7 linked regions of the Homo sapiens genome follow. The protein of the gene in region 7 interacts with the protein of the main gene of each other region in a pairwise test. Each region holds a gene or a part of one and is shown on either strand. Other genes may lie near its edges.

Region 1 (4,716 bases), on a different chromosome or scaffold from region 7:
TAGGTCTTCTCTTGTAAATCTGAGTTCTGATTAATTTGAAGTGATAGCCTTAAAAGAGGAAGCCCAGGTATGAGGGACCCACCAGCCCACCCCTATTTTTACTTCGTGATGGCCAGAACATCACCATAGTATGAGGCTACTTTCCTTCTTGTGAGAGCCCCACCATCAGTATAACTGGCACTCTTGGCTAGTATTTAGCCTGTATTTCCTTCATTTCTAATTTCTTTTTTTTTCCTGAGACGGAGTCTTGGTCTGTCGCCCAGGCTGGAGTGCAGTGGTGCGATCTCTCACTGCAAGCTCCGCCTCCCGGGTTCACGCCATTCTCCTGCCTCAGCCTCCTGAGTAGCTTGGACTACAGGCGCCCACCAGCACGCCTGGCTAATTTTTTGTATTTTTAGTAGAGATGGGGTTTCACAGTGTTAGCCAGGATGGTCTCGATCTCCTGACCTCGTGATCCGCCCGCCCTGGCCTCCCAAAGTGCTGGGATTGCAGGCGTGAGCCACCGCGCTCGGCCCTTTCATTTCTAATTCTTAATATTGTCTCCTAAACGTGCAGAGACAAGCACACGTTTTAAAGGCTAAGGAGGTTGTAGGTAGCAGAAGGCTTTAAAAAGTAGCACCTTACTCCTTCACTGGATGGTCTGAGCTGCAGGGACAGCTGCTCTTTGGCCTTCAGCTCACCTCAGAAACTAGAAATATTTATTTCAGGCTCTGTCCCATTGGCCACTGTGGTCAGGGGTGGAAAGCACCTGCCAGGTGTTGCCCTGAGATTGTCTGGGCTAACAAACTTTTCCACAAGCTTTGTGGTTGAACAGTAGCCCCCTCCTAACCCTATCGTTCCTTGGCGTCCAAACTACAGTAGGTGTCGAGTGCCCCCTGGGTGCGAAGCTCGGTATTAGGCAAATAAGGGTGGTTGCTCTCCAAGGCGCTTAGCTGTCCCCCCTTCCCACTTTTTTTTTTTTTGTTCGAGACTGCGTCTCGCTCTGTCGCCAGGATGGGGTGCAGTGGCGCGCTCATAGTGGCTCACTGCAGCCTCGATGTCCGGGGCTCTGGTGACCCTCCCACCTCAGCCTCCAGAGTAGCTGGGACCACAGAAGCGCGCCACCACTCTTAATTTTTTGTACTTTATTTGCAGAGATGGGGTTTCATATTGCCCAGACTGGTTTCGAATTCCTGGGCTCAAACGATCCGCCCGCCTCAGCCTCCCAAAGTGATAGAATTGCAGGGGTGACATGCCACTGCGCCCGACCAAGGCGCTTAGCTTTCTATTAAGTTTTCACAACCACTTTCCTACCACTATCTACTGTTCCTATTTTACAAATGACAAAACTAACCGACAAAAGAGCACTGGACCGTGGGACCAGAGCACGTCCCTGTGGGGTAACCTTGAGCTGGTCGCTTGCCCAGGGCGGCAGCGGATGTCTGAAGCGTCTTCCAATCCCAACATTAGACTTAATTCAAGGTCACCAGTGCTCAGCTGCGGCTGGAACTGGGTCTCGAAACTTGAAGGCCTTCTCTGCTACAGCCTTCGTTCCCGGGAGCAGAAAGAGGAAGTTTCTTAGCCGTGGGCACGCCGGCGCCTTCGCAGAGGCCCATGGCTTGAGGTCCGGCCCGAATGCGCAAGTTCCGACCTGAAATGAACTATGGAGTCCGGGAGGGGTCGCTTTGCTCCTCCGGAAGGCTTCCCCTTCAGCCAATCACCGTTCGAGGCCCGCCCCCGTCGCCGGAAGGAGCCGTCGCCCCGAGCAACTACAACGTCCGGCTTTCTGAGTTGGGTGGCGGGAAAGGCGATGAGTAAAGGCCGGGCAGAAGCTGCGGCGGGAGGTAACGGCGCCGTGGGCGCGGGGAAGACCCGGGAGGGCAGTGGGTGAGGAGGTCGGTTGAGTGGCCCCCTCCCCTGCCTTTCTCTCCGTAGCCGCCGGGATCCTCCTGAGGTACCTGCAGGAGCAGAACCGGCCCTACAGCTCCCAGGATGTGTTCGGGAACCTACAGCGGGAACACGGACTGGGCAAGGCGGTGAGGACCTTCTCCCGGGATTCCCTCTCCGTCGGACTCCCTGGATTCAGGCTGGGGTCGTGCCCTTTGGAGCCTTGGGCGTTTTCCACATCACTGGCTGGATTTCCCCAGACCCAGGCTCAGACTCCTCTGATTGCTCCTTCTCTCTCCTCTGCCAGGTGGTGGTGAAGACGCTGGAGCAGCTGGCGCAACAAGGCAAGATCAAAGAGAAGATGTACGGCAAGCAGAAGATCTATTTTGCGGATCAGGTGAGGAGAACTTGCGCCGATTGTCACCCATGAGAGCCCGACAACGGGTGAATCTACTCCTGGTGTGAACTCTTTGGGGACAAGGCCCCCCATGGAAAACTCACCTGTCTTAGGCCACCATCCTTAAATCAAGGTGTGTACTCCTCTTGTTAGGATCCCAACTTCACGAGGTTTCCAGATTTACAATATGATGGATGACAGAAGATTCTGTATTGTTGCTACCAAGATCCATTTCCGCTCCAAAGCTCTTATTCCTTATCATCTACATTAGCAACACCCTCTGCCAAATGATGTTCCTCCTGCCTCCATCCGATTCTCTAAACACACATATCAAATTTATATTCTCCAGCCCAGACCTCCAGCTGGAATCTGTCAGGCATTAATATCAGAGTCAAAATTGCCACAGTAGAATGCCTCATCTTCCCCCCACCCCGGACTGGTTTCTTTCTAACATTCTCCTCCCCTAATGGAATTACTCTTCACCCAAACCAGAAATTGGGAGCAATTCTTGACTTCCTTTACTAGTCAACCATCAAGTCCAGCTGATTTTTCCGTTTTTATTTATTTTTTTAATTTTTATAGAGATGGGTCTTACTGTGCTGCCCAGGTTGGTCCCAACTCCTGGGCTCAAGTGATCCTCCTGTCTTGGCCTCCCAAAGTGCTGGGAGGACAGGCGTGAACCACAGAGCCTGGCTAATTTTTCCATTCTTGAATCCACTCTCCTTTCCATCTGCCATGGTTGCTCTAGTTCACGCCCTCTTTATTTGTTGCAGTATCCTCCTAACAGATCTTGGCTCTTCAAACATATCTTAAACTCTTAAACATTGCAGTCAGAATGATCTGTCTAAATAGATCTGGTCATGCACCTTCCCTATTTAAAACTCTTCAATGGCTCTCTAGTGCTGCAAAAAACATGTAAAAGGCACCGGAAGACGCCCCAGCCAGCCTCTGGCCTCACCAATCCTCATTATTTTTCTATCCACGAACACTAGATAATTCTGGTGTGTTTTACTGCTCTGTCCTTTGCATGTTGTCTTCCCTGTACCTGCTTCTCTTCCTGGCCAGCTCTTTCTTTCCTTGAGGATTTCACTTAGACATCACCTTTTCCAGAAATCTTCCTTGAATGCTCCGAGCTAATTGTTTCTTTTTCAGGCCCTTATCTCTTTTTGTTATTGTTGTTGTTGTTGTTGTTGAGACGGAGTCTCGCTCTGTCACCCAGGCTGGAGTGCAGTGGCACAATCTCGGCTCACTATAAGCTCCACCTCCTGGGTTCACGCCATTCCCCCGCCTCAGCCTCCCAGAGTAGCTGGGACTACAGGCACCCGCCACGAAGCCTAATTTTTTTTTTTTTTTTTTTTTGGTATTTTTAGTAGAGATGGGGTTTCATCGTGTTAGCCAGGATGGTCTTGATCTCCTGACCTCGTGATCCACCCGCCTCGGCCTCCCAAAGTGCTGGGATTACAGGCATGAGCCACTGTGCCCAGCCTGGCCCTTACCTCTTTTGAGGCATGCTGTATTACAATTTTTACTTGTCTCCTTTATTCAACTGAAGTTCCTCTAGGGCAGACCCCATTTCTCAATTCATTTTTATCTGATCAGCACCTCCGCAGTATCTAACATCCAGCAGATATTACTCGTTAAACTGAACCAAACCACTTTTAAGGCTGACTTTCCTAAAACAGGCTGCATTGTGTTACTCATCTAAAGATAATTCTCTAAAGGAGGGTTTGGCAAACTTTTTCTGCAAATGGCCAGACAGTATTTTTAGGATTTGTGGGCCATATGTATCTCTTGTCATGGCTGGCTGTACAACTGCCACAACTACTCACCTCTGCCACTGTAGAACAGAAGCAGCTGTAGACTATGTAAATGAACGGGTGGGGCTGTTTCAATAAAATTTTGTTTTCAAAAACATGCATCTGGCAGGATTTGGCTTGCTGGCCATAGTTTGCTGGCCTCTGCCCTATAGGTTCACCTTGCCCAAGTGTAGAGTCCAGACTGCACTGGCTGGCATACTTTTTCAACCTGCTCCCCATCACCAACTGATGTGACCTCCCCCACCCCCACACTGATCCCCAGTGCAGTTCTTTTCTAGCAATGGCCCCTCATGAGAGAAGCTCCTCAGACTTACTGGAATCCCTTATCTACATGGATCCCAAGACCCAGCATAGTGGCTCATGCATGTAATCCCAGCACTTTGGGAGGCTGAGGCGGATGGATCACTTGAGCCCAGGAGTTTGAGACCAGCCTGGGCAACGTGGTGAAACCCCTTCTCTACTAAAAATACAAAAATTAGCTGCGCTTGGTGGTGCGCGCCTGTAATCCCAGCTACTTAGGAGGCTGAGGCATGAGAATCGCTTGAAGCCAGGAGGCGGAGGTTGCAGTCAGCCAAGATTGCACCACTGCACTCTGGCCTGGGTGACAGAGAAAGAAAGAGAGGAAAAGAGGGAAGG
Region 2 (4,047 bases), on a different chromosome or scaffold from region 7:
CTCCTAGGTATATACCCAAGATAAATGAAAATATATACCACTGAAAAACTTGTATATGTATGTTCATAGCATCATTATTCATAAAAGACAAAAAGTGGAAACAACCCAAATATCATTAACTGATGAACAGATAAATAAAATATGGTATATTCATACAATGGAATAATATTTGACCATAAAAAATGAATTAAATAATAATACATGGCACTATAAGGATGAACCTTAAAAAGGTTATGCTGAGTGAAAAAATCTAGTCACAAAAGCCTACATATTGTATGATTCCATTTATATGAAATGTCCAGCATAAGCAAATCTATAGAGACAGAAAGTAGATTAGGGGTTTCTTAGGGCTGTGGCATTTGAAGAAAATGGGGAGCAGGTGATAGCTAAATGGTATAGGGTTTCTTTTTGAGGAGATGAAAATGTTCTAAAATTGATGTGATGATGGTTGCACAACTTCGTGGATATACTGAAAAAAGCACACATTTTCTTTTTTTCTTTTTTTTTTTTTTTTTGAGATGGAGTCTCGCTCTGTTACCCAGGCTGGAGAGCAGTGGCGCAATCTTGGCTCACTGCAACATCCACCCCCAGGTTCAAGCGATTCTCCTGCCTCAGCCTCCCGAGTAGCTGGGACTACAGGCACATGCCACCACACCCAGCTAATTTTTGCATTTTTAGTAGAGACAGATTACACTGTATTGACCAGGCTAGTCTTGAACTCCTGACCTCAAATGATCCACCCACCTTGGTCTCACAAAGTGCTAGGATTACAGTCATGAGCCACCATGCCTGGCCAAAAGTATACGTTTTCAATAGGTGAGTTGTATTGGCGTATGAATTTTATTTCAATAAAGCTGTCGCCAGAAAACAAACATGAAAAACAAGCAAAAATCATGGAATCATATTTATCAAATTACTATCATATTTACCATGATATTAAAGCCAGAAACTGTGGTCTGACAACATTTGAAATGTACAAGAAAACCTGGGCCCAAACTGACTTCCAAATATTGCTAATTTTCACATTAATTCAATCTCTCTCATTCGTAGACTGAGACACTTCCTGAAAATACTCAGTAATGTTTTTGGAGGTTCTGCACATTCTTCTACTTGATGATTTTATCTTTAATTGCTTATACACATTCCCAACTATTCATACCATTTCTTTAAGGCTAATGGGTTCTCTCTATATTCATTGCTTTCTGTTTTTTCTCTCCATTCTTTTGGGTGTTTCCAAAACACATGCGTTTTATTATGTCTCTTGGCCATGAAATTCCCACACAAGAATTTTTTCCATGTCAGAATTCAAAGCAAAACTTGGAATTCCCTTATTTCACAACGTATACTGACTTAGAAGAGGTCAACATCTCTTGGGACCCAAAATAGGAGGGCATTGTAGAGTACAGCCGAAAGGATTCCTAATAATATTACAAAGTATGCAAAGATGAACTGTTACTTTCCAAGCGTTCCTAAAGCCACAGCTTTTACATTATCCAAAGATGTCCTTTCAATCAGCTCTAATCATAACAACATGTATTGAGTACTTACTGGGTTCAAGGCCATGGGCCTCGAGGTTTGAAATGCAGTAGCAAAACCTCAGTACTGCAATCTAAAGGGAAATCACCTCCATATCTTGTGAAAATTGTGTGTCCTCTGCACCATATGTCAGCCAACAGCTTGATGGCTTAGTTAAATATCTGTAGGTAGATATCTGATTATTAGATACCCATTTCCGAGCTCTTCTCTAGTTCTGGGTTACTGCATTGATTTCTCTCTTCTATTTCAGGATGGGGAGATGACATCACTTGGGTACAAACTTATGAAGAAGGTCTCTTTTATGCTCAAAAAAGGTAACATGCTTCTCAGCTCATTTTTTTCCTTTTATTTGTAGTAGACTCATAATAATTGTACATATTTATGGAATATAGAGTGATATGCTGATACATGTACACAATGTGTAGTGATCAAATCAGTGTAATTAGCATATGCATCACCTGAAACATATCATTTCTTTCTGGTGGGAACACTCAAAATCCTCTCTACTAGCTTTTTAAATATATACAATAAACTATTGTTAACTGTATGTACCCTATAGTGCTGTAGAATACTACTCAAACTTATTCCTCCTATCTAGCTATATTTTTGCATCTATTAATCAACCTCTCCTTATCCTTCCAGCTCTGAACCCTCCCCAGCTTCTAATAACCAGAGTTCTACTCTCTACTTCTATTAGTACAACTTTTTTTTAAGCTACTCTATATGAGTCAGAATTTGTGGTATTTATCTTTCTATATCTGACTTATTTCACTTAACACATCCTCCAGGCTCATTCATGCTGCTGTGAATGAGAGCATTTCATTATTTTTATGTCTGGGTAGTAGTCCACTGTGAATATATAACATGTTCTCTTTATCCATCCATCCATTGATGGACATTTAGGTTGATTCTATATCTTGGCTATTGTGAATAGTGATTCCATAAATATGGAGATGCAAATATCTCTTTGATATACTGATTTTTTAAATAAATACTCAGTAGTAGGAAAGCTGGATCATATGGTAGTTATATTTTTAGTTTTCTGAGAATCCTCTATATGTTTGCATAATGGCTGTACTAATTTACATTCCTACCAACAGTGTATAAGAATTCCCTCTTCTCTGCATCCTCACCAGCATTTGTTATTTTTTGTCTTTTTGATAATATCAGTTCTAACTGTGGTGGGATAATATCTCATTGTGGTTTTGATCTGCCTTTCCCCGATGATTAGAGATGTTGAGAATTTCTTCATATCCTTGGCCATTTGTGTGTCTTCTTTTGAGAAATGTCTATTCAGATCTTTTGCCCATTTTAAAATCAAATCATTTGGGGTTTTTTGTTGTTGAGTTGTTTGAGTTCCTTGTATATTCTAGATATAGGCCCATGTCGAATGAATAGTTTGCAAATAATTTCTCCTATTCTACAGTTTGTCCCCTTATGCTTTTGTTTCCTTTGCTGTTCAGATGCTTCTCAGGTGACATAGTCCCATTTGTCTATTTTTGTTTTTGTTGCCTGTGCTTTTGAAATCTTACCCATACATTTTTTTGCAGGGAACAATGTCCGAAGGGCTTCCCTTATATTTTCTTCTAGGAGTGTTATAGTTTGGGGTCTTACATTCAAGTCTTTAGTCCATTTTGAATTGATTTCTGCATATGGTAAGAGTTAGGAGTCTAGTTTCATTCTTCTACATATGGATATCCAGGTTTTCCAGCACCATTTATTGAAGAGGGTGTCCTTTCCCCAATGCATGTTCTTGCCACCTTTGTTAAAAATCAGCTGACTTTAAATACGTGGATTTATTTCTGGGTTCTCTATTCTATTCCATTGGTCTAGGTTTCTGTTTTTATACAAATACCATGCTGTTTTGTTTACTATAGCTTTGCAGTATATTTTGAAGTCAAGTAGTATGATGCCTGCAGTTTTGTTCTTTTCACTCAGTATTGCTTTGAACTATTTGGAGTCTGTTGTGGTTCTATACAAATTTGAAGATTTTTTTCTTTCTGTTTCTGTGAAAAATATCATTGGTATTTTGATAGAGATTGCATTGAATCTGTAGATTGCCTTTGGTGGTATGGTCATTTTAGCAAAATTCATTCTTCCAATCCATGGCATGGGATGTCTTTCCATTTTTTGGTGTTCTCTTCAATTTCTTTCATCAATGTTTTATAGTTTTTCTTGTAGGGATCTTTCACCTCCTTGGTTAATATATTCCTAGGTGTGTGTGTGTGGTTTTTGTTTGCTTGTTGTTTTTTTGAGATGGAGTCTTGCTCTGTCACCAGGCTGGAGTACAGTGGCGCGATCTCAGCTCGCTGCAACCTCTGCCTCCCAGGTTCCAGTGATTCACCTGCCTCAGCCTCCTGAGTAGCTGGGATTATAGGCACATGCCACCATGCCCAGCTAATTTTTTATTATTAGTAGAAACAGGGTTTCACCATGTTGGCCAGGCTGGTCTCGAACTCTTGATCTCAGGTGATACGTCCACCTCAACCTCCCAAAGTGCTGGGATTACAG
Region 3 (4,047 bases), on a different chromosome or scaffold from region 7:
TAGACTTTTCATATGAAACTTACTCCTTGCTGCAGTAGTATTACCATCCTGTTTCATGGTTGAGTCAATGAACGATCATTTGCTTGAGGTCATGAGCAGTAAGTTTCAGAGCCCCACTGGAACCCTCACGTACCCCTCTCTAAGCCCTTTGCCTTGGTTGTGTTTCTGCTGCGCAAGTCTGAGCACGGGGTTGGCCTTTCCTCTGCTGCTCACAGATAGCATTGCTTGTTGGTGTCCGACTTGATTGCCATCATATTTCTAGCATCTAGTACCCTGGCCTGTGTTCACTTGGATTGAATAATTAAATGCTCACTGATTACATTTAATCTTTATCACAGCGGACTTAGATTTTTTTTTTTTTTTTTTTGAGACGGAGTCTCACTCTGTTGCCCAGGCTGGAGTGCAGTGGTGCAATCTCAACTCACTGCAGACTCCGCCTCCTGGGTTCAAGTGATTCTCCTGCCTCAGCCTCCCGAGGAGCTGGGATTATAGGCACCTGCCTCCACACCCGGCTAATTTTTGTATTTTTAGTAGAGATGGGGTTTTGCCATGTTGGTTAGGCTGGTCTTGAACTCCTGACCTCAAGTGATCGGCCCGCCTTCGCCTCTCAAAGTGCTGGGATTACAGGTGTGAGCCACCACGCCCAGCCAGATGGTTATTAATATTCATTCCCATCTTTCAGATGAAAAAATCAGAGCCTCAGAGAAGTTGTGCAGCTTGTCACGGCTTCTGTCGCTAGGAAGTAGCAGAGCTCAGGTTCAAGCCCCCCCTTTTTGTTGTTGTTGTTGTTGTTTGTTTTGTTTTGAGATGGAGTCTGGCTCTGTCGCCCCGGCTGGATTGCAGTGACACAATCTCGGCTCACGGCAAGCTCTGCCTCCCGGGTTCACTCCATTCTCCTGCCTCAGCCTCCCGAGTAGCTGGGACTACAGGCGCCCGCCACCACGCCTGGCTCATTTTTTGTATTTTTAGTAGAGACGGGGTTTCACCGTGTTAGCCAGGATGGTCTCGATCTCCTGACCTTGTGATCCGCCCGCCTCGGCCTCCCAAAGTGCTGCAAGCCCCTTTTTTATCTGACCCAAAAGTTAGTGCAGCACAGAGCTAAATGCATAGTGGGTGTCCCCAAAGATTTACTATTATACTGAATTTGTTGCTGCAAGCTCCCAGTAACACTGTTGGCTTTTCCACTTGTACGAGTCCTTGGGTCCTCACCAGGAAGGTGGGGTGTGGTCCCGATCAGTGCTGCCTGCCGCAGTGGGAACAGCACTCCACTTGTGGAAGGCACTAAACAGACACCTTCTTCTGTGTCTTGCTAGGTCTTTGAGGTACTGTGACCTGCGATTGATAAACTCCTCCTGCTTGGTGAGAACAGCCTTGGAGCAGGAGCTGGGCCTGGCTGCCTACTTTGTGAGCAACGAGGTTCCCTTGGAGAAGGGGGCTAGGAACGAGGCCTTGGAGAGTGATGCTGAGAAGCTGAGCAGCACAGACAACGAGGATGAGGAGCTGGGGACAGAAGGTGAGGGATGGCTGCCCTCAGCCTACTTGTCCCTGTCTGCATGTCTTTCTTGGCTTCTGAGCTTTGAGGCTGCCTGTGCTTATGGAGACAGCTGTCTCCAGTTCAGCAGGGTCCTGGGACCTGTCTGCTGGACAGCGGCTCTGGATGAGAGGTCTCCAGTGTTGGATGAAATGGCAGAGCTCTCACTGAATTCAGATTTTGTTTGTTTTCTCCCCATCTCTTTTGGTGGTGTGAGAAAATGGAAATCCCTATAGGTTTTTCCTAGTTCTAGAATTCTTAAAGAATAGGAAGAAAAATTAAGATTTCTTAGAGTTCAAGTTCAAAATTTCTTAGAGTTCCTCGTTCCACTCACTGGTGGAATTCCCACCTAGTGTGATTTGCTTGTTTATTTCCTCTGTGAATCAACCCAACAGCGTGCTGTCCATTTTTAAGAAGTGTGAAAACAGGCTCATTTGCAGACTCTTCAAATCTGATGCCGCCTTTTTAATAGGACACATAAATGATAACATCGCAAGGCATTGACTATAGTCAACAATGTGATGAGAAAGACGTAGACAGTCATTCAAAAACTAGAAAGCATTTGTGGAGTGTGTGGAATGGAAGGAGGTGGGTGTGGGCACCAGCGCGGGTCTGTGGTCTGCCTTGTCTGTCTTGACTGTGGGACCTCTCTTAGCCTCAGCTTGCTCGTCTGTAAAATGTAGATGGAAAGGCCTGCCCGCCTGTAGCCATCTTTTCGAAGCACGGCAGAGACTCTGATTTAATTCTTTCATTTGTGAGTATCTGCTGCACGTCTCCGTGCTCCCTGGCATCTCAGGACCCCCTTCTTTAGTTTCACCATCTGCTTCTCTCTACCCATAGCCCGCATTGCACTGAGCACTGGCCCACGTTAAACTTGCAGTGGCCGGGCTGTGCCCTGCCCTTCTGGCCTCTGCGCTGCACGGCTGCCCTTCCTGCTGCTCAGAGTTTTCCTTTCTCTACTTTACCTGCAAAACCCTGAGGCCCTTCAGGGCGACGGCCAGATGCCCCCCTCTTCCAGGAGATGCCCTGCTTTTCCCCCAGGCTCCCCGACCCCTCTCTCTTTGCATCTCCTCCACCAGCTTGCAGCTGTGCCTCATGGGCAGGAGCCTTCGCTGCACCCAGAGTGCCTCCCTGCACTGCAGCCCACTCCCTCCTGTCTCCTCAGTGCTCTGTCCATGGTGGGGGCCTGGAAGATGGCAGTGAATGAGTAAATGGATGGGGAGAGGTGATGCATGGGAACACACTTTACACACTGTGAAGTGCTGGGCAAATGTCAGGAATGGTGATTTCGGTGCATTCTCAGCGTGTGTGTTTTGGAACAGGCTCTACCTCGGAGAAGAGAAGCCCCATGAAAAGGGAGAGGTCCCGCTCCCACGACTCAGCATCCTCATCCCTCTCCTCCAAGGCTTCCGGTGAGTCTTCCCACACGGGAAGGACCAGACCAGCAGACTGATTTTTGAGGTTTCAGAGAATGAAAAGAAACCTATAGAGGGCTATTTGCTGATCCTTTATTTTCCATCAGAACTGGAAAGATAAGGAAATCTTTGAAGTGCTAGACTCTCTAGAGAGTAAATATTGTGGTCAACTTCGGATCGGAGAACTTGAAGACTGAGCAAGACTGTAGGGTTCTGCTGCCCCTGTGCTCAGGGGAGGACCGTGGACCCTGCCCCTCACTGTGGCTGGGGCCTCAGGCTGAGTCCTGGCCGTGTTAGGGGCGGGTCCCCGGGTGTTCTCCCTGCCGTTGTTGGTTTGGGAAAACCCTGTGCCCTGTGGGGAGAGGAGCTGAGCGCAAGGAGAGAAGTAGACATGGAGACTTCACTGGGGGAAGAGCAACAAAAGGCAACACAAGCTCATGAGCCTTCCGCGTAGCCACAGCCACAGCGGGTGGGCAGTGCCAACCACAGGCTCCACACGGTCTCTGCCCTAAGGGGTTCCTCTGTCTCCGAGAGTAGTCAGGATCCCGCAGAGGAGGGCAGAGCCCCTGGTGAGAAACAGAGGCCCCGGGCAAGTCAGGGGCCACCGTCGGCCATCAGCACGCACAGTCCCTGTCTTTCCGCCAAAAGCATTCTGAGGGCCTACTTGCTATCTGGATCAGCACTGAAGGATAAATGAGATGTAGACCTGACCTCAGGGAACGAACTCATTGTTCTCATAAAAGACGTGTTATTTTGCAGTAGTCTTTTGCACACATTTTCACTTCACATATGAAGAAGTCTGTAATTTTGTCCCAAGGCAGAGGGCAGATTTCAGGGTAGGTGAGGTTACCACAGGTTTGAGAGAGCAGCTGACCCTCAGTCGGGCCTTGCGGAAGGTGTTGCAAGTGCAGGAAGCCTTAAGGGCCGAGAGGCTCAGGGGCGAGACGTGCAGGGCCTGGGTGCGGGGACGGGTGTGTGCGGTGGCCGCAGGCTCCTGTTGTTGGGGCCGGGGGTGTGCCTAGCTGTGGCTGAGGGAGCGGCTGAGAGTCCCTGCTGTTTGGTCTGGGACGGGGAAAGGTCAGAGGTCAGGGCCCACCAGGA
Region 4 (4,662 bases), on a different chromosome or scaffold from region 7:
GCCAGACCTTCCCTAATCACCCTATTTTAAATTGCACTCTTCCCTCCCCCTTCCCTACTTTATATTTCTCTGTAATGCTTGCCACTTTAAAACTTTTACATTTAGTTTATTGTCTTTCACCTTCCACTAGAGTTTAAGTTCCATTAGGGCATTTTTGTTCTTTTTATTCACTGCTGCATCCCCAGTGCTTAGAATAATGCCTGGTACATAATAGAGGCTCAATATGTATTTAACAAATATTAAATTAATGAACTGTAGTTATCCAAATCAATAAATAGCTTTCGTTTATTTCGCTAAGAGCCCTCGGACATTCTGATCATTCAGCGTGTTACCTATTTCAAAGTAGTCAAGTAACTGCCATCTTAGAGAAGCCATCTTCTTGTATTCTGTGATAATAGCGAACGCTTATTGAGCACTTATTATGTGCAAGCACGGCTCCAAGGTATCATAATAGTACTTTAGGGCCTTAGGTATTACAATCGGAGTTACTTTCCGATTATATGTACATTCCGAGATACGTATAAAAAGTATTTGTTCTTTATCTGAACTTCACATTTAACTGGGAGTCCTGCTCTTTTTTTTGAAACAGGTTCTTTTTTTTTTTTTTTTTTTTTTTTGAGACAGAGTCTTGCTCTGTTGCCCAGGCTGGAGTGCAGTGGCACGATCTTGGCTCACTGCAACCTGTGCCTCCCGGCTTCAAGCGATTCTCCTGCCTCAGCGTGTGAGGAAATTAGAATGCAGGGAGGTGAATAATTTGTTCGAGATCTTCTATGTGGGATGATCAATGGCAAAGATGGGTACAGAACCCGCGTCCTTAACTAAACGATGGCACTCTGCTGGCTCGCTTTTAGCTCCTTGTGTTTTCTTTCTTTTTGGTGGTTAACTTGTTTTCGTCAAGCCCTCAATTATTTAAAAAAAAAAAAAGTTCTTAAGGCTCAAAGTCAAAACCTGTCAAAGGCCAAGTGCTTTATTTCCCTCCAGTCAAGGACTGGGCATTTTGCATTTGAATCCTGGATGGCGGGAAGCAGCAAGCAGGTGTCAACAGGGGTGGGGAGGAGACGCCGGACCCCACCAGCCAATCAGAGCGCGCAGAGGCCTCCCTTCCCCCGCCGCCGTCCCGCGCCAAAATTCCAAACGGGCTACGCACCGCTCCCACCGTCTCCTTCCGCCGAGCTCAGCGAGCCGGAACTATGTGAAGAAAAAGAAGTCAGCGTTTTCCCCAGGACTCTCCGCTCAGGTCCTCTATACTGTCGGCCTGTGTTCCTCTCCACGTTGGCCCGGCCTCCTTCGCTCTACAAATGGGAGGAGAGTTTCGAGCCTGCTGTTCTACGGTGGTGGCGTGGGCGGGACAGACGGCGGAGGGATTCTGGGCGCGCGCGCTGCGGCCGCTGGCGCGGAGCTTGTGGCGCCAGAATTCGGAGCGCGGAAGAGCCAGAGCTGCGAGCGCCTGGAGCTGGATCTCTCTCCGGTCGCGCACGCCGAGGCCAGTAGGGAGAGAAGATGGTGGTTCTCCGCAGCAGCTTGGAGCTGCACAACCACTCCGCGGCCTCGGCCACGGGCTCCTTGGACCTGTCCAGTGACTTCCTCAGTCTGGAGCACATCGGCCGGAGGCGGCTCCGCTCGGCCGGCGCGGCGCAGAAGAAACCCGCGGCGACCACAGCCAAAGCGGGCGTGAGTACGGGCCTGAGGCGGGCTCCCAGGGCGGTTCCCGGGGGGACTGCCGGCAGCCCGGCGCTCGGAGGGGCCTGGGGGTGGGCGGCGCCGGTCAGGGTGACAGTTGTCGGGGGAGAAGTGTGGTCGAGGACGAGTAAAATGGAAGCTCTCGGGATCGGAGGTGCGGGTCGGATCGCTGAGCTGAGGCTGGCCGGGAGAGGACTAAGCATTTGGTCACCACCTACTTTTACGCAAGAGGAAATCGAAGCCCGCCACAGCGGAGTGCGGTCTGGGGCCAAGCCGCGGCTGTTCGGCCGCCCGCACGACCCCCCACTCCCTGGCCGATCGATCGCCCAGGCTCCTGCCCTAGGTTCGCATCAACCTGGAGGCAACACGCATCCCCTGACTGCTTTCTGTCTGCGCCATAAACGTTGGGGGGGAGGGGGCACAGGGACAGACAGGTTGTAATTCAGGTTCTCTGACCTCCATTAACGATCCAGAGGAGTTCCGTAATAACAGCGCAGTGAATAATACCAGGTTGCATAATGTGGAGGGATGAAGACCAACATTTCATGTACGCCCCCCGCTTCCAAGCCTCGTCATAACCCTTTGAGAATGCGTAGTTGTGCTATCTCTTTGACAGATGAAGAAACGGATTCAAAAAGGTAAACAGTAAGGGGTAGATCTAAAATTGGAACTCAGATTGCCTGCCTCCTAAATCGTTCCCTTTCTATGCCGTCATGCTGCAGTTACAAGCAGTGTCTATAGGGGAAGTTTGGAAGGAAGGAGGGTCCTCTTGAAAGAAGTGCTGCTTCTAGGTCTGAAGTGCAGTGACGGTTTTTGCAGGGCAGAGTTAAAGCTGAGCAGTTACTCCCCTCCCATCCACCTCCCCACCCCAGCTGCTGAAAGAGGCCTAGGTGGAGGGGTTTCAGCATTCACAGAAGGTTGAAGAAGTCGGGGAAGCTCGCTAGTAAATTTAGTTAAGGCAGCAAGTAATATATAGCTGGACTGAAGGTGTTGGAGTGAGTGAGGGTAGGCATGGAGTAGGAAAAATAGGACCTGAGAGAAGGTTGGGAACTTGGGAATGAGAATGAGAGGCTCAGGGGAAATGTGTGGTGGAAGTGACAATGTAATCCTCTTCAGTTCAGCAGACGATTTCAGGGTCTTGTATTAAGTCTTCTATTAAGATCTTGTATTTAGATAACTATATAAAATTAGTTGCCAGTATCTTTTGTGGGCATCCCATTCTGGTTGCTACTCTACTGAGGGGAATGGGTTAAAAACTACACTCCCTTCAGTCTCTGAAATTGTGATTCTGAATTGAAAAGACAAGTAATTTCCTGACTTTAAAGATTTGTTTCTCAGTCATCTGCCAGGAATTGGCAGAGACCTGGAGAGGCCAAACACTTCTGCACTGGAATTGGTTACTTGACTTAACCTGTGTTCAGAAAATGTGTTTCAATACTGATTGATTATTTATGTCCAGGGTAACACTAGATCCTGTGAACATAATGATACGTACTGATATATTGAATACTGGTTAAATACATAGGCTCTTTTTTTTTTCTTCGAGACAGAGTCTCACTCTCTCATCCAGGCTGGAGTGCACTGGTGTGATCTCGGCTCACCGCAACCTCAACCTCCACCTCCCGGGTTCAAGCAGTTCTCCTGCCTCAGCCTCCCAAGTAGCTGGGATTACAGACATACACCACCACGCTGGGCTAATTTTTGTATTTTTAGTAGAGACAGGGTTTCTGTATGTTGGCCAGGCTGGTCTCGAACTCCGACCTCAGGTGATCCACTTGCCTCAGCCTCCCAAAATGCTGGGATTACAGAATTGAGCCACCCTGCTTGGCCAAATACATAGACTCTTAAGAAAACTGTTAATTATGAATTTCAGTTTCAGCTTCTCAGGTTTACCAATAATCATCAGGTTTCTACACTTGTTAAATGGGATGATACCCACCACATTGGTAGTGAGGATTAAATGTGATCATGTATGTAAGGAGATTAATTGAACAGTTAGCATATGGTTAGGATTCAGTCATTGTCAGCTATTAAGACCATCGTCAGTTTTAGTTAATGGCCACTCCGTTTTTTTTTTTCAGTTCCTCAGGAAAAAAAACCTTAGGTTGTTGTTGACTCCTCACATCCAGTGCATTAGCAAATTCTGTTGGCTCCACTTTCAAAATATATTCCAAGTCTGACCACTTTATATGTCCTCCAGTGTTGCCATGCTGGTTCAAGCCATAATCTCTTTCCTGGATTATTTATTTATTTATTATTTTGAGACAGAATCTTGCTCTGTCACCCAGGCTGGAGTGCAGTGACGTGATCTCGGCTTGCTGCAGTTTCCGCCTCCCGGGTTCAAGTGACTCTCCTGCCTCAGCCTTCCAAGTAGCTGGGATTACAGGCATGCGCCACCACGCCTACCTAATTTTTGTGTTTTTGGTGGAGACGGTGTTTCACTGTTTTGGCCAGTCTGATCTCAAACTCCCGGTCTCAGGTGATCGGCCCACCTCAGCCTCCCGAAGTGCTGGGATTACAGGCATGAACCACCGCGCCTGACCATCTTTCCTGGATTATAATAGATTCTTGATTGGCCTCCTTCCCGTTTTCCACTGTTTGATATATATATTATGCCCCACCTTCCCTCAACAGTCAGTTCTCTTTATTTATGCATTTATTTATTTTTGAGACAGAGTCTTGCTCTGTCACCCAGGTTAGAGTGCAGTGGCACCAACGTGGCTCACTGCAGCCTCAACCTCCCAGGATCAAGTGATTCTCCACCTCAGCCTTCTAAGTAGCTGGAACTACAGGGGCTCGCCACCACACCCAGCTCATTTTTAAGTTTTTTGTAGCAATGGAGTCTCACTATGTTGCTCAGGCTGGTCTCGAACTCCTGGACTCAAGCAATCCTTCAGTTTCAGCTTCCCAAATTGCTGGGATTAAAGGTGTGAACCACCACGCCCCACCAATAGTCAGTTCTTAATGCAGTGAATCTTTTTT
Region 5 (4,047 bases), on a different chromosome or scaffold from region 7:
TCTTCATGCATGATGTTAGACCAAGAGGCACTCAGACAGGTGGTAGTTTGGGGAAAAATCTGCCAGAGAATTTTGAACGCACAACCAGCAAATGAATGTTTAATTTTGTAGCAATAGAGGGTTTCTCTTTTGGAAATGGGGTATATCATATTTACATTCCTCCTAAAAAAAAGTGAGGGTCAATTCACCATAACGTGGTCTCTAGTTCAATCCCTACTGAGACATACATAAAAACCTATGAGATAGATCAATTCCACAAATTCAATGCTAGGAAAGGGTCTTTTTAGACATCCATTTGCTTTCTTTTTTTCAAATGATAATCCCTGGACATTCCTTTGCAACTGGACTGGCAGGAAGCCTAGGGTTAAATATATTGCTTAAATGCAAAAGCAGTTTAGGATCCTGATACATTGTCTCTCCACTTTCAACAGTAACATTACTCCTTCTGGTTTTCAATCCGTATTTTATGATTCTCAATTGTAGTTTGGGCTTGTATATCACATATGAAAAAACAAAAACAAAAAAACCTTAGTTCTCTGATGGGACTGGACGCTATAGAAAGGAGGAAGTGCTGGCCATGACTTACCTTGTGAATTTCTCGGTGCACATGGATGGTATTATTTCCAACCTTCGTGTCTGTGTTGGTCTCATTGTGATAGCTGGGAGGTAAGTTTGCCAGGTTCACTTCTGATGATGCTTTAGCAGCAGCTTCTTCTGCCTCCATCTATTAAATCGATGAATTTAATGAGCAAAATTATTTTCTCTTGTTACAAATGGGAGTCTATTAGAAAAAAAAAATCTCTTTTCCTCTTCTGCAATTACAAAGAATGATGATGATGATAGGTGCTATTAATTGAGTACTCACTATGATAAGATATTATACTAAACGTTTTACATATATTACAGCACTGAAATTTCACAATCTCTCTGGGAGGTGGGTGTTAATGTCCTCATATTACAAATAGGGAAACTGAGGCTCAGGAAGACTAGATAAATTCCCCAGAGTCCCAGGAAAGGGTGGAGCTGGGATTTGAACATGTTTCCACTAGATAGTCTTGCTCCCTGTGTAAACGCTGTTGATGCCCTGCCCATCTCCTGGTGGCCTAATCTGGAGGTCACCTGTATCCAGTTCCCATACATGCCAACAACCAACTCTGTCTCTCTCTAAGGGCATTCTCTGGTCACCAAAGTATGCTCAGTCTGCAGAGGCCCCAAGTGCTAGGGAGTTAACATCCTAGCAATGAAAGTCAGGCTATGGAGGTAAACAGTCTAGCTTCTCCCTTCGCTAGACAATTCTAAAGCATGTAGAATCTACGTAGTCTCCCTCTAAGGCCTCCAGTGGGATGGAGCCCTAGATGCCCGCAGCAGTAACCTGCTTGCAGGCATACCGTTGATTGTCTTTCTTTTCTTTCATCACACTTTCCCACTTCCTGCTAGTGTTTTCTGGGAGCACATCCCAAATGCACTATTTGCTCTTAAGTCCTTGTGGCAGGACCTGTTGTTGGTGGTGGTAGGGGCAGGGGATGGAGGGAACCTAAACTTACTCCCTGTAGGTAGGGCCACAGCTGTGTCTCCTTCCCCACCCTGCCTCTTGGGTACCCTTGTAGGAAATCCTTGCAGAGGGACCCTTGTAGAGGGTCAGTTAACCAGTTCCCGGGGTCCACACCCCTTCTGGTTTTCTTAGACATATGTTCTTCTCTGGTGTCAGGTTTCTGTGGCCGCTGTCCTCAAATCCTCCAGGCTCATGATCCTCCATAACATCTATACCAGATATGTCAGTGACCTCATATCTGCACCCAACTTCCCCTTCCAGATTTATCACCCTGTCCTGGCCCTGATGAGTGGGCAGTTGACAATGTGACCTGTTCACAGCTGATGGGACCCAAAGGGAGGCCACATCATAGACTAATTGAGCCAATCAGATACTCTCTCTAGGAATTTCAAATGAGAGACATAAAGAGAAGTTCTACCTGATAGTTGGCAATTTTCCAACACTGCTATTTTTGACTATGGGCTATTTTTATTTTTTTTTTTAAAAAAAGAATGCTCAAAAAGTATTTTCCTATTTAAAAAAATCACTGTCCTCTATCCCCTTAAGTACTAGATGAGCCCCTGCTTTAACCACCAGGTTTGCTGAGCTGAGGAGGATAAGAGGAAAGAATCCTCATGTCTCAATGCAACACAAAAACACTAAACTCAAAGTGTGAATAAAACCTGGTAGGCAGAAAGGCTCAACAAGGACTTAGTCAGTGGCCGGATTCTGTGCTGGATTCTGAGATGGCTGCTGAGATGTTTGAAACTTGATCACTGGCTTCATAACAATAATAATTCTAAGAATAGCCCCCACGTTTGGGGCATTGACTATGTCTGAATCGTTGCACCAGATGCCTTGAATATTGACAGCAACCTTATGGGGAAGCTGTGATTATAGAGTCAGGTCCAAAAGTTTAAAAAATTGAAATATCTGGATCCCTTCATGGACCCGCTGAATTGGGATTTCTAGAGATGAGACCCTGATAATACTGAGCTTCTCAGCTTATTCTGAGGATTTCCCTCCCCTCCCTCTGATCCCCAGTTAAGAATCTCCGTTCCAGGCAATAGGGAACTACAGCAAGTTCCAGAAGGCTAGCGGGAAATAATATAAAGAGTAGATCAGAAAGAGAGGGGAGTCAGGAAACTGGCTAGAATTAGGTCTAGGAGATGGGAGCTACTTCTGGGTAGGGACCTTCTAGGTGGGAAAGACTCTAAGTAAGTCTAGAAGGATCAAGCCACTGAGAGATGGCCACTGGATGAGTCAAGTCATTGCCTGCAGCATCCTCGGAGAGGAACACAGTGGAAAGTACCAGGATTCTGGAGTCAGACAAGGTGGGTTCAAGTCCTGGCTCTGCCACAAAGTAGCTGTATGACTTTAGGCAAGATACCAAATCCCACTAAACCTCAGCTTGCTCATTTGTAAAATAGGGATGTCCTACTTTGTTGAGTAGATATAAGAATTAAGGACCATGCAGTAGATATAAGAATTAAGGCATGAAATACACTATCTGCCACACAGCAAAGATGAAATACACAGCTGTTTTTATCCCGTTGCCCTTTAAGAAGGCAGTTTCAAAAGAAGCCAGTTTGTTTTGCCAGAGTTCTGAAGGGAATGGGTAGCTAGAAGCAGGAAGAGCAAACGTTGATATCATGTGTTTGAAGAGCTTGCCAACAAAGGGGAGAAGAAATGGGGCTGAGATAGAAGACAGAATGGGCAAGAAAATGACTTTCCTTAAAAGCAAGAGACCTTGCCCTCAGTTACCACTCTGGTTAGTGATAGAAAAAAACGCAGCTGGGAAGAGAAGACTGAAGGTGCTGGAGAGGACCCACCCAGAAGAAGAGAATGTTTTAGTGTTTTTAAAATTCCCATCGGGATCAGTTTGGCTTTCAAATAATTGACAAGTTGCCAAACCTAGAATTTGCTCTGGGCTGAGCAGATAGTCTTTTTATAAAACTTTTCCCCCCAGCTCAGCCACTGGTTATTTCAACAGAATGAGCTAACGGTTCTTAAATGGCACCATGAACTAAAAGTATAGTTTACAATGGAAATTTCAACCGCAACTATTATTGCCACTAGCAAGAGAAACTTAAGTCTGAAGCAAAAGGAGCTGTTTCGTAGAGGAGGAATGTGAATGCTATTAAAAATGGCACTTATACTAGAAATAGGTGAGGCAGTAAGAACATTCTAAAATGAGTGAGTTACAGAGCTGGCCATGAGGGGAAGAGAAACAGAGTGGTTATATCTTCAGAATACATTGATTGGTAGCATATAGAATAGTAACACAGGAAAGTAGGAATATCCCAGATTGAAGCCATTTGAAGATATGCTTCTTCCAATAATGACCGTACAAGTAGAGCTGCTTTGTCCTTCCCCTTAAGAAACTTCAACAGCTTGATTCAGCTGGAACATTGAAAATGCCAGGAAGTTACTTGAAAGGAGATTCATGATGCAACTATGTAAACAAATAATGCATCTGGCCCAGGTCCTTTTTGATTTTTCCCCTGAACAATGAC
Region 6 (4,824 bases), about 83 Mb from region 7:
AGAGCTGAGAATGCCTTGGATGGTGGGGGCGGCAATGGAGAGTAACCAATCAGTGGTCTTTGAGGGATGTTAATTATCGTTGTGTTGCTGCTTCCAGTCAATTATTGGGATAAGGAGGGGGGAAAACAAAATGAACCCGAAACATGTGTCTAATGTCTAAATCTGGCTTTCCTGTGTGGACAGATCCTGAATGGACCCCCAGAACTATTCCAGGAAGTGAGGAGCTGGTTTTTTGAGCTGGTTTCTTCCCCAGTCCATCTAACACAAGCAAATATCACTGAGTATCTAAGGAGTGTGGGATGGCTCAGCTTCCTCTCCCAAATTTGTTGGCTTTATTAGGGCACAGGGCAAATCCTGGCCTCCTCAGGGCCAGAGGGCCATCATGTCTCCAGTCTGTGTCCATATGCTTCTGGACAATTAACTTCCAGTTTAAGGCAGGACATGGGAATGCATCCCGGAAGATGCTTGTCTTAGACAATCATCATACAGGGTTTTGGGTCGTTTCTCTGGTCCTGAGAGGCTTTCCTGACACCTTGCAGATTAGGCTCCAAATACTACCAGCCTGCAACAATGTTTACCAGCCTGTGGCATTGCCTCTTAGTTTAATGCATTCTGTTGAGCAGGGCTTGAAGCTGTGGGTCATACTTTGAATTTATATTCATTTATTCCACAAATCATTGATCTATTTCGTTTACTGTTATGGTCAGTTTCTCACTTATCTCATCATCTGGGTGTTTTCAGTTTCTTTCATGCCTCTCGATATTTCCATCCCACGCTTATGCTGAAGGGAAAAGCAGCTCAGGCCTGGAATGAGGGGTGCGCTTGCTGAGAAAGGCAAGACCAGAGCTACAGGGCCTCAGCACTGAAGCTGACTACTAGGCTCAGCTGGTGTGGCCACCTCAAACCAACTGGGAAATGGGAAGTCTGGGTATGGGAGAAAAGGGGGTTTCTTCAATAAAGTATGAAAGTGCCCCTCAAAAGGCCCTTCCCCCCCATCTGGGGGCAAGGGGATTATCTCTCGCAAGACACTGCTTTGTTTTGTTTTGTCAGAAATGAGGTCTAGCTATGTTGCCCAAGCTGGTCTCGAACTCCTGGGCTCAACCGATGCTCCTGCCTCGGCCTCCCAAAGTGCTGGGATTACAGGCGTAAACCACCATGCCGGCCCCCAAGACACTTTTTAGCCTATTGCCTTGGTTTATTTTCTTCATGGATACTTTCACTCTCTGAAATAACATTATCCACTTGTTTTAATGTGTATTATCTGCCCCCCCCCCAGCCCCTCCATGTAAGGTTCATTCTGCACGGCCTATCTTGCTCACTTAAGGATTTATTTCTTGCACAATAGATTGAATGAAAAACTCCCTTGCAAAGAATAAGTGCAAAGCAGATATCAAACAGTGAGAACATTTCGTTCCTTTGGGTTCCACAGTTCTAACATTCTAACTTGCAAAAAAGAGCCAGTTCTTCTGTCGAAAGTGGGAACCGAACTCGGGCTCTCTCGGGGTTCAGAACAGGTGGAAAGTAACCCCCCCCCCCATCCCTTCTCTCTTTTCCCCTAGCCTCAACTCAACTCAGCTGGGGGGGGGTGTAGAAGCCTCTGGACCTGCAAAAGGGGGCCGAGCGCTCAGATGCTCCTCCGCAGGCCGTGCGACTCGCCGCGCGCACACGCTGAGCTCAGCCCGGGCGGTGGGTGGGAAGGATCCGGGAGGGGCAGGTCTGGGGGTGTGAGGGTGGAGCGGAGCCCGGCCCCGCGATCCGGCCCGGGTTTTGCATGCCACCCACTCGCCCGCCCGGCCGCGGAGAATTCCATAATCACAGCGGGCGAGAGCGGAGACTGGGAGCGAAAAATCCGGGATCCGGCAACTTTGGGCAGCGCATGCGCGCCCGCGGCGCTCCATCCCAAACACACACACATTTTTCCCCCGGACTTGGAAAGTCACCCAAAGCCGCCCCAAGTGCAGGTAAGAGACTCGGCGCTCCCTCCGCCGCGGCCCCCCCACGTCCCCCAGCTCCGCGGGCCTCCCGGGGCGCCTCCCCGTCTCTCCCCCTGTCCCGGTGCACCCCCCCCACCCCCGGGGCTGCCGCTTGCAGCAGGGAGCGGGCGAGCGAGCGAGCGAGCGAGCCAGCCAGCCAGCCTGCGATCGGCGGCTGCCACCCAACTCCGGCCGTGCGGAGGCAGGGGGCACGGAGGGCTGGCACCCGGGCGCGGGGCGGCGCGTTGCCTGCCGTGGCCAGGGGAATGCCCGGCGCGCGGCTCCGGGGGAGGGGAGGGCTGCTCCTCCTGGGGGTCGCTTACTCCAACTGAGGGGGTGGCGGGGTAGGGGAGAAGAGAGGGAGGTGCCAGGCGCGAGCACAGGACTTTGCAAATAGGGTGGGGGCGCCCCACGCGCTGTGGGCTCCCGGGGGGGCAGGTGATCTCCAATACCGGGTAATCACTCCTTCCCCTTAAACCCCCACCCCACCCCACCCCCCAGCAGCAGAGGGGTCGTGCGCTCTCCAGGGCAGAGAAGGAGGCGGGGTGAGGGGTGCCTGGGGTGACTTTGCAAGACTTTGCCCATGGGAAGGGGTGGGTGGGGAACCCCTCCAGCCGGCTCTTGTGCCCGGATACCGGGTGTAGGTGCTGCCAGCAGAGGTAGGCAGTGTTCGCTTAGGCGCGGGGTGCCAAAGGGTATCCCCCATAGGAAATCGAAGGCAAGAGATTTCTTAGATGGGGGGAGCGGCGCCCCCTTTTTCATCTGTGCCTGGGAAGTTTATCTCAAGTGCGCTGCTCCAGGCGCGGCAAGTGGCGTTCCTCACTCCCTTCCCCACCCCACCCCCTGCCTCCCCAGCTGAAGGGCTGGCAACACAGGGCACGGGGAGCCGGGGCATCGGCCCAGAGCTGCCCGGCTGTCGGCTGGAGCCCGCCTGGGTCCCGGGGAAAGTTCGGGCGAGTTGTTGCCGGCTGTTGTGTGCGCCAGAAGAGAAGTTGCGCCCGGGGACGTGGGACGCTGGGCTGGCGGGCTAGCGGGCTGGTAGAGTGGTGCGCTCCGGGGGGGCTCTGCAGCGTGGGAGAGGGTCGGTCGGGGTCTGTTCCCCCAGGGTGGGCTGAGGGTGACCTCGGAGCTCAACAATTGGGGAGGAGGAGCCCTGAATCCAAGGGCACAGGGCTGAAATAGGCACCTGGTGAAGGACAGAGAAAAAAGTAGTTTGTGGGGGCGCAGGGAACACCAAAGGGAGAGAGCCGGTTTCCCGGTCACTTAGGGTCCGGCTTAACGGCAAAGGAGAGCGTGGTGACTGACGGAGGAGCGTCGGGGAGCGGGGATCCAGGGGGCGCGCGGGAATGGGGGATCGGGCCAGACCGAGTCAGGGATCTCCCGGGGCAGGGGGCCGATTCGTGCGCCCGGGGTGAGCCGGACGGGCGGAGCGGCGGCCGGTTTATTTTTACTCGGTGGCATTTGCAGAATGTGCAGCTGATGGCCGTCGGCCGCCAGGAAGTTTTGCTTTCTGTTCTTTCTCTCTCTTTCCGAAGCCAGCACTGCCGGGAGCTGGCGGGCCGGGCAGCCGGGTCTGGAAGGGGAGGGGGCGGCCGCCGGGGTGGCGAGGTGCGGGCAGAGGCGCGCTGGGGCCGCTGGCGGGGGCTGGCCGGGCGCGGGCGGGCGGGCGGTTGCTGGGCCGCTGCGGAGCGTTTGGGCGAATGTCTGTCCCCGGCGCTGGAAGCTCCTCCGCGAAGGGAACAGGTGTATGCGCCGTCAATCACGGCTGGAGGGACACTTTGGGGGCGTAGATTAAGATAATAATAATAGATTTTTCTCTAAGGGGTGGGCGCAGATTCTTCTTCCAAGTCATCCCCGACCCGGGTCCGGAGTTGGGGGAGGCTAGTGGAGCGCTGAGGGAGGCAGGGGACCCCCTCTTCCTCCACACAAGTTCCTCTGCCCCAGCTTCAGCTTGGAAAGCCGGCTCTGGGCGCGGCGAGGACCTCCTTCCAGCCACGCTGGCTACGGTGCGGGTGCGGGTGCGTGCCCACCGGAAAAGCGGCAGTAGCGCCTCTCCTGAGTATGGAGCTCCCCCAAACCTGGATCACTGGGCCACGGGGCGGAGTGTGCGTTTCTGACCGAGTGGAGTGTGGGGGTGCGGCCCTCATTGTGCGTAGTTGTCCCGCCGACACCCGGTACACTCAGGGGGTGGCGAGGGGGAAAAGGCCCTGGTAGTCGCGGGGCAAAGTTAGTAAATTTAGGACGTCTCCGAGCTGGTACAGGCGCGCGGTGAGAGCGCACGAGGGGACTGGAAAACAGATCGCCGGATAATCTTGGTGTCCCCCCGCCCAACCCACGACGCGCGCGCGCGCGCACACACACACACACACACACACGCATACACATACAAACACGCACACACACGCGCACACACACACGTCGCCGTCCTAAAGGGAGCTGTCCCGGCTGAGCAGGAGCAGCTGCGCCGGGCATGGGGAGGGGGGTAGTTGTTCCCCGGGGGCTGAGCCGGGGCTGCGCTCCACGTGCCCGGAGGGGGCGCTGGGCCGTTCGGCGCCCGAGCGCAAAGCGCCGGGTTTGCGTCCTGGTGGCGACCAGGCGGTGCGTCCCGGGCGGGCGTCGCGACCTGCGCAATCTCCGGCCGCCCGCGCCACTCCCCCGACCCCCAGCCGCTTTCCCACTTCCCAAACTTCGGTTTTTAGGGTGTGCCCCTCGCGGGAGCTCCTGGACCCTCTTCAGGGCAGAGTGGAGAACTTCTCCTTTCCAGGAGGTAGCCACCATCTCTGTCCCCAGAGTCCGGCGAATTGGAGAGATCGCCGCCCCGCCCCCCCGCCACCCACCCCCTTCTTGTTAG
Region 7 (3,345 bases):
GGAGTGCAGTGGCACGATCCTGGCTCACCACAACCTCTACCTCTCGGGTTCAAGCAATTCTCCTGCCTCAGCCTCCCAAGTAGCTGGGACTACAGGTGTGTGCTACCACGCCTGGCTAATTTTTTGTATTTTCAGTAGAGACGGGGTTTTGCCATGTTGGCCAGGCTGGTCTCGAACTTTTGACCTCAGGTGATCCACCCGCCTCGACCTCCCAAAGTGCTGGGATTACAGACATTAGCCACCGTGCCTGGCCTATCATTCTTTTTAGTTGTAGCCATTCTAGATAGTGTGGTGGTATCTCATTGTGGTTGGTTTAAATTTACATTTCCCTAATGATGAATGCTTTGAACATCTTTTCATGTAGTTGTCATTTGTATGCCTTCTCTGATGTAGTGTCTATTCAAATTTTTGTCTATTTAAATTTTATCTTCTCACTGAGTTGTAAGAGTTCTTTGTATAGCCTAGATGTAAGTCCTTTATCAGATATATGTGTACTCAATGTTTTCTGCTGTGGTTCATGCTTTTTGTGTCCTAAGAATTTCTTTCTTTCTTTTTTTTTTTTTTTTTTTTTGAGATGGAGTTTTGCTTTTGTTGCCCAGGCTGAAGTGCAATGGTGCAACCTCTGCCTCCTGGGTTCAAGCAATTCTCCTGCCTCAGCCTCCCGAGTAGCTGAGATTACAGGCATGCGCCACCACGCCCGGCTAATTTTGTATTTTTAGTAGAGACGGGGTTTCTCCACGTTGGTCAGGCTGGTCTTGAACTCCCGACCTCAGGTGATCCGCCTGCCTCAGCCTCCCAAAATGCTGGGATTACAGGCGTGAGCCACCGTGCCTGGCCAAGAAGTCTTTACTTAGCTTAAGGGCACAAAGAATTTCTCCTATGTTTTCTTACAGAAGGTTATACTTTAGCTCTTACATTTTGGGTCTATGATCCATTTTGGATTATTGTGTATGGTATGAGGTAAGGATCGAGATTCACTTTTTTGCATATGGATATCCAATAGCAGATACCATTTGCAGGATTATACTTTATCCAGTGAATTATTTTGGCACCTTTGTTGAAAATCAACTGTCAGCCATATGTGTGGGCCTATTTCTTAACTCTATTCCATCTAAGAGAGGATGTGGTCTGCTTAAGGCCAAAGATGTTCAGGCAACTCTTTTAAAGAGAGAGAAGCCTCTAGCCAAAGAGTCATGTGGTTCTCATCCTTTATTATTGCTGGGATAGTTTGTTCTGCCATTAAATATACCTGCCATCTAGATCACAGGATCTTGGTTGTAGAAAGGACAACAGGAATATTTTCTTCCTGATGATGCCAGAATATCCTTGGTGGATAACCAACCAAAGGCCAGATGGTGACTTTTTTTTTTTTTGAGACCAGGCTGGAGTGCAGTGGCACAATCTCGGCTCAATGAAATTAAGAATCAAGGAGAATCGCTTGATACTCCTGCCTCAGCCTCTCAAGTATTCCCTCTCAAAATTCCCCGGCTAATTTTTGTATTTTTAACAGAGACGGGGTTTTGCCATGTTGTCCAGGCTGGCCTCTAAGTCCTGACCTCAGGTGATCTGCCTACCTCAGCCTCCGAAAGTGCTGGGAATACAGGCATGAGCCACTGCGCCCGGCCCCCAGATGGTGACTCCTATTCATACATGCTTTGAGCCCCTTCCCATTCACGTGGTCTGGTCTATGCTGGTGAGCAGATCTCTGCCTTTCCTGGGTTCACTGTCACTTACAGCAATGGGTACTTGCTGTGAAATCTATATTAGGATCGACTGAAAAATTCCATCAGTGACCTTTAAAGTGATTTAAAGCTGTAGAGCAGCTTATGGCACACTTTTCTCAAAACCCACCCTGATGTATTGGCTTATGCAACATCCATGGTAATGTATTCATTGGCTTTGTCTAAGTAGGCACTCTGATACTTGTTGACTTGTGTGCTTTTATTGTTTGAGTAACATACAGCCAATCCTGGAGAACTTTTTGAGGAAGAAAATGAAACAGGTATGCGGTGCTTATACCCACAGCAGATGGTGCAAACGACTAAGTCCCACATCTGGTTCTGAGGCAGCTCCCTTTTAGAATTAAATAAATGGAGTCTCCTGCCCCCACATAGTTCTTAACTTTGTGAATCAAACTGTGAGCCCTTGAAGAATTTAAAAAATTATATAGTAATGGAAAATAGTCATCCTTGATGACTGCCTTGGCAAAGCCCTCCTTCCTGAATGGTCTTTCTGCCAGCAAACCTTCAGCCTTCCAGCCTTCCTCCACACAGACACCAGAGTAATTTACTTTAAAACAGAAATCTGACCATGTGACACCCTCCCATGATTAAACCCTTCACTGGCTCTTCTTCAGCCACGGTCTTATGTGGAAGGGCTTCCCAGCTGCACCTCCCTCTGTAGCCTAGTTGGCCATTCCTTAGGTCATACTTTGCACAAATCTAAACCCAAGTACTTGTGGATCCCAGTTTTCCCCAAGGTCTCTCAGCGCCTTTGCTTGGGTTGTGCCATCTGAGTGGAATTCCCAGCCCTGCTTGCTGGTAACTGCTTTTGTCCTTTAACAATCAATGCAGTGTTTTCTGGGAAGCTGTCACCAGGTGCTTCCTCTTTCCTAACATCTCTGACCAAATCAGTCCCTTCCCCTAAGTGCTCCCACAGTATACACTGCATTTATCGTACCTGCTTAAATTCCTCAGGACATCCAGTTAGCACGGTGCCGCGCGCATGCCACATGTGTGATAAATGCCGGCCGTGCTGACTGAGGAGGCTGCTTTCTGTCACCATAGCACTTGTAAGAAAAATCCGTTTACGCAACACTGCCCCACACTTTCCAGGATGTGTCTGATGCTAAGAGCAGGGGAGCTCACTTCCCAGTGTGACTGGGAAGGAACAGGAATGCAGATAAATGAGGTCTGGATAAAACTCCACCTCCTCATCTTGGCACATCACCTTTTCTAATCTCACCTATTAGAGGTACTATTAATAAGTGGTAGGCAAGTTGGCCAATTCTTGTTCTGTTGCCCAGCGCCCAGGCTGGAGTGCAGTGGTGCGATCTCGGCTCACTGCAACCTCCGCCTCCCGGGTTCAAGTGATTCTCCTGCCTCAGCCTCCTGAGTAGCTGGGATCACAGGCACACACCATCACGCCCAGCTAATTTTTGTATTTCTATTAGAGACAGGGTTTCATCATGTTGGCCAAGCTGGTCTTGAACTCCTGACTTCAAGTGATCTACCTGCCTCAGCCTCCCAGAGTGCTGGGATTACAGGCTTGAACCACCACGCCCGGCCCCAGTTCTTTCTTGACCCCTTCTCTCTGTTTATTCTATACCATTGAACAACAGAACAC

The links.
Region 1: the proteins of BCAR3 (region 7) and PSMC3IP interact in a two-hybrid assay, tested with the Homo sapiens proteins (one large-scale study listed by BioGRID and IntAct).
Region 2: the proteins of BCAR3 (region 7) and AGR3 interact in a two-hybrid assay, tested with the Homo sapiens proteins (one large-scale study listed by BioGRID and IntAct).
Region 3: the proteins of BCAR3 (region 7) and GREB1 interact in a two-hybrid assay, tested with the Homo sapiens proteins (one large-scale study listed by BioGRID and IntAct).
Region 4: the proteins of BCAR3 (region 7) and ATAD2 interact in a two-hybrid assay, tested with the Homo sapiens proteins (one large-scale study listed by BioGRID and IntAct).
Region 5: the proteins of BCAR3 (region 7) and DKK3 interact in a two-hybrid assay, tested with the Homo sapiens proteins (one large-scale study listed by BioGRID and IntAct).
Region 6: the proteins of BCAR3 (region 7) and CASZ1 interact in a two-hybrid assay, tested with the Homo sapiens proteins (one large-scale study listed by BioGRID and IntAct).

Annotation. Positions count from the first base shown.
Region 1 is NC_000017.11:42,574,760-42,579,475, reverse strand, and holds the start of PSMC3IP (homologous-pairing protein 2 homolog), read left to right. Parts: upstream 1-1,746; 5' UTR 1,747-1,789; coding exon 1,790-1,823; exon of another isoform or gene 1,824-1,914; coding exon 1,915-2,015; intron 2,016-2,173; coding exon 2,174-2,263; exon of another isoform or gene 2,264-2,396; intron 2,397-4,716. UniProt on the Homo sapiens protein: Plays an important role in meiotic recombination. Stimulates DMC1-mediated strand exchange required for pairing homologous chromosomes during meiosis.
Region 2 is NC_000007.14:16,871,583-16,875,629, reverse strand, and holds part of AGR3 (anterior gradient protein 3 precursor), read left to right. Parts: intron 1-1,786; coding exon 1,787-1,850; intron 1,851-4,047. UniProt on the Homo sapiens protein: Required for calcium-mediated regulation of ciliary beat frequency and mucociliary clearance in the airway. Might be involved in the regulation of intracellular calcium in tracheal epithelial cells.
Region 3 is NC_000002.12:11,613,778-11,617,824, forward strand, and holds part of GREB1 (protein GREB1), read left to right. Parts: intron 1-1,313; coding exon 1,314-1,513; intron 1,514-2,853; coding exon 2,854-2,943; intron 2,944-4,047. UniProt on the Homo sapiens protein: May play a role in estrogen-stimulated cell proliferation. Acts as a regulator of hormone-dependent cancer growth in breast and prostate cancers.
Region 4 is NC_000008.11:123,393,196-123,397,857, reverse strand, and holds the start of ATAD2 (ATPase family AAA domain-containing protein 2), read left to right. Parts: upstream 1-1,410; 5' UTR 1,411-1,500; coding exon 1,501-1,671; intron 1,672-4,662. UniProt on the Homo sapiens protein: May be a transcriptional coactivator of the nuclear receptor ESR1 required to induce the expression of a subset of estradiol target genes, such as CCND1, MYC and E2F1.
Region 5 is NC_000011.10:12,001,714-12,005,760, forward strand, and holds part of DKK3 (dickkopf-related protein 3 isoform 1 precursor), read right to left. Parts: intron 725-4,047; coding exon 587-724; intron 1-586. UniProt on the Homo sapiens protein: Antagonizes canonical Wnt signaling by inhibiting LRP5/6 interaction with Wnt and by forming a ternary complex with the transmembrane protein KREMEN that promotes internalization of LRP5/6.
Region 6 is NC_000001.11:10,793,701-10,798,524, reverse strand, and holds the start of CASZ1 (zinc finger protein castor homolog 1), read left to right. Parts: upstream 1-1,878; 5' UTR 1,879-1,961; intron 1,962-4,824. UniProt on the Homo sapiens protein: Transcriptional activator. Involved in vascular assembly and morphogenesis through direct transcriptional regulation of EGFL7.
Region 7 is NC_000001.11:93,563,741-93,567,085, forward strand, and holds part of BCAR3 (breast cancer anti-estrogen resistance protein 3), read right to left. Parts: intron 1-3,345. UniProt on the Homo sapiens protein: Acts as an adapter protein downstream of several growth factor receptors to promote cell proliferation, migration, and redistribution of actin fibers.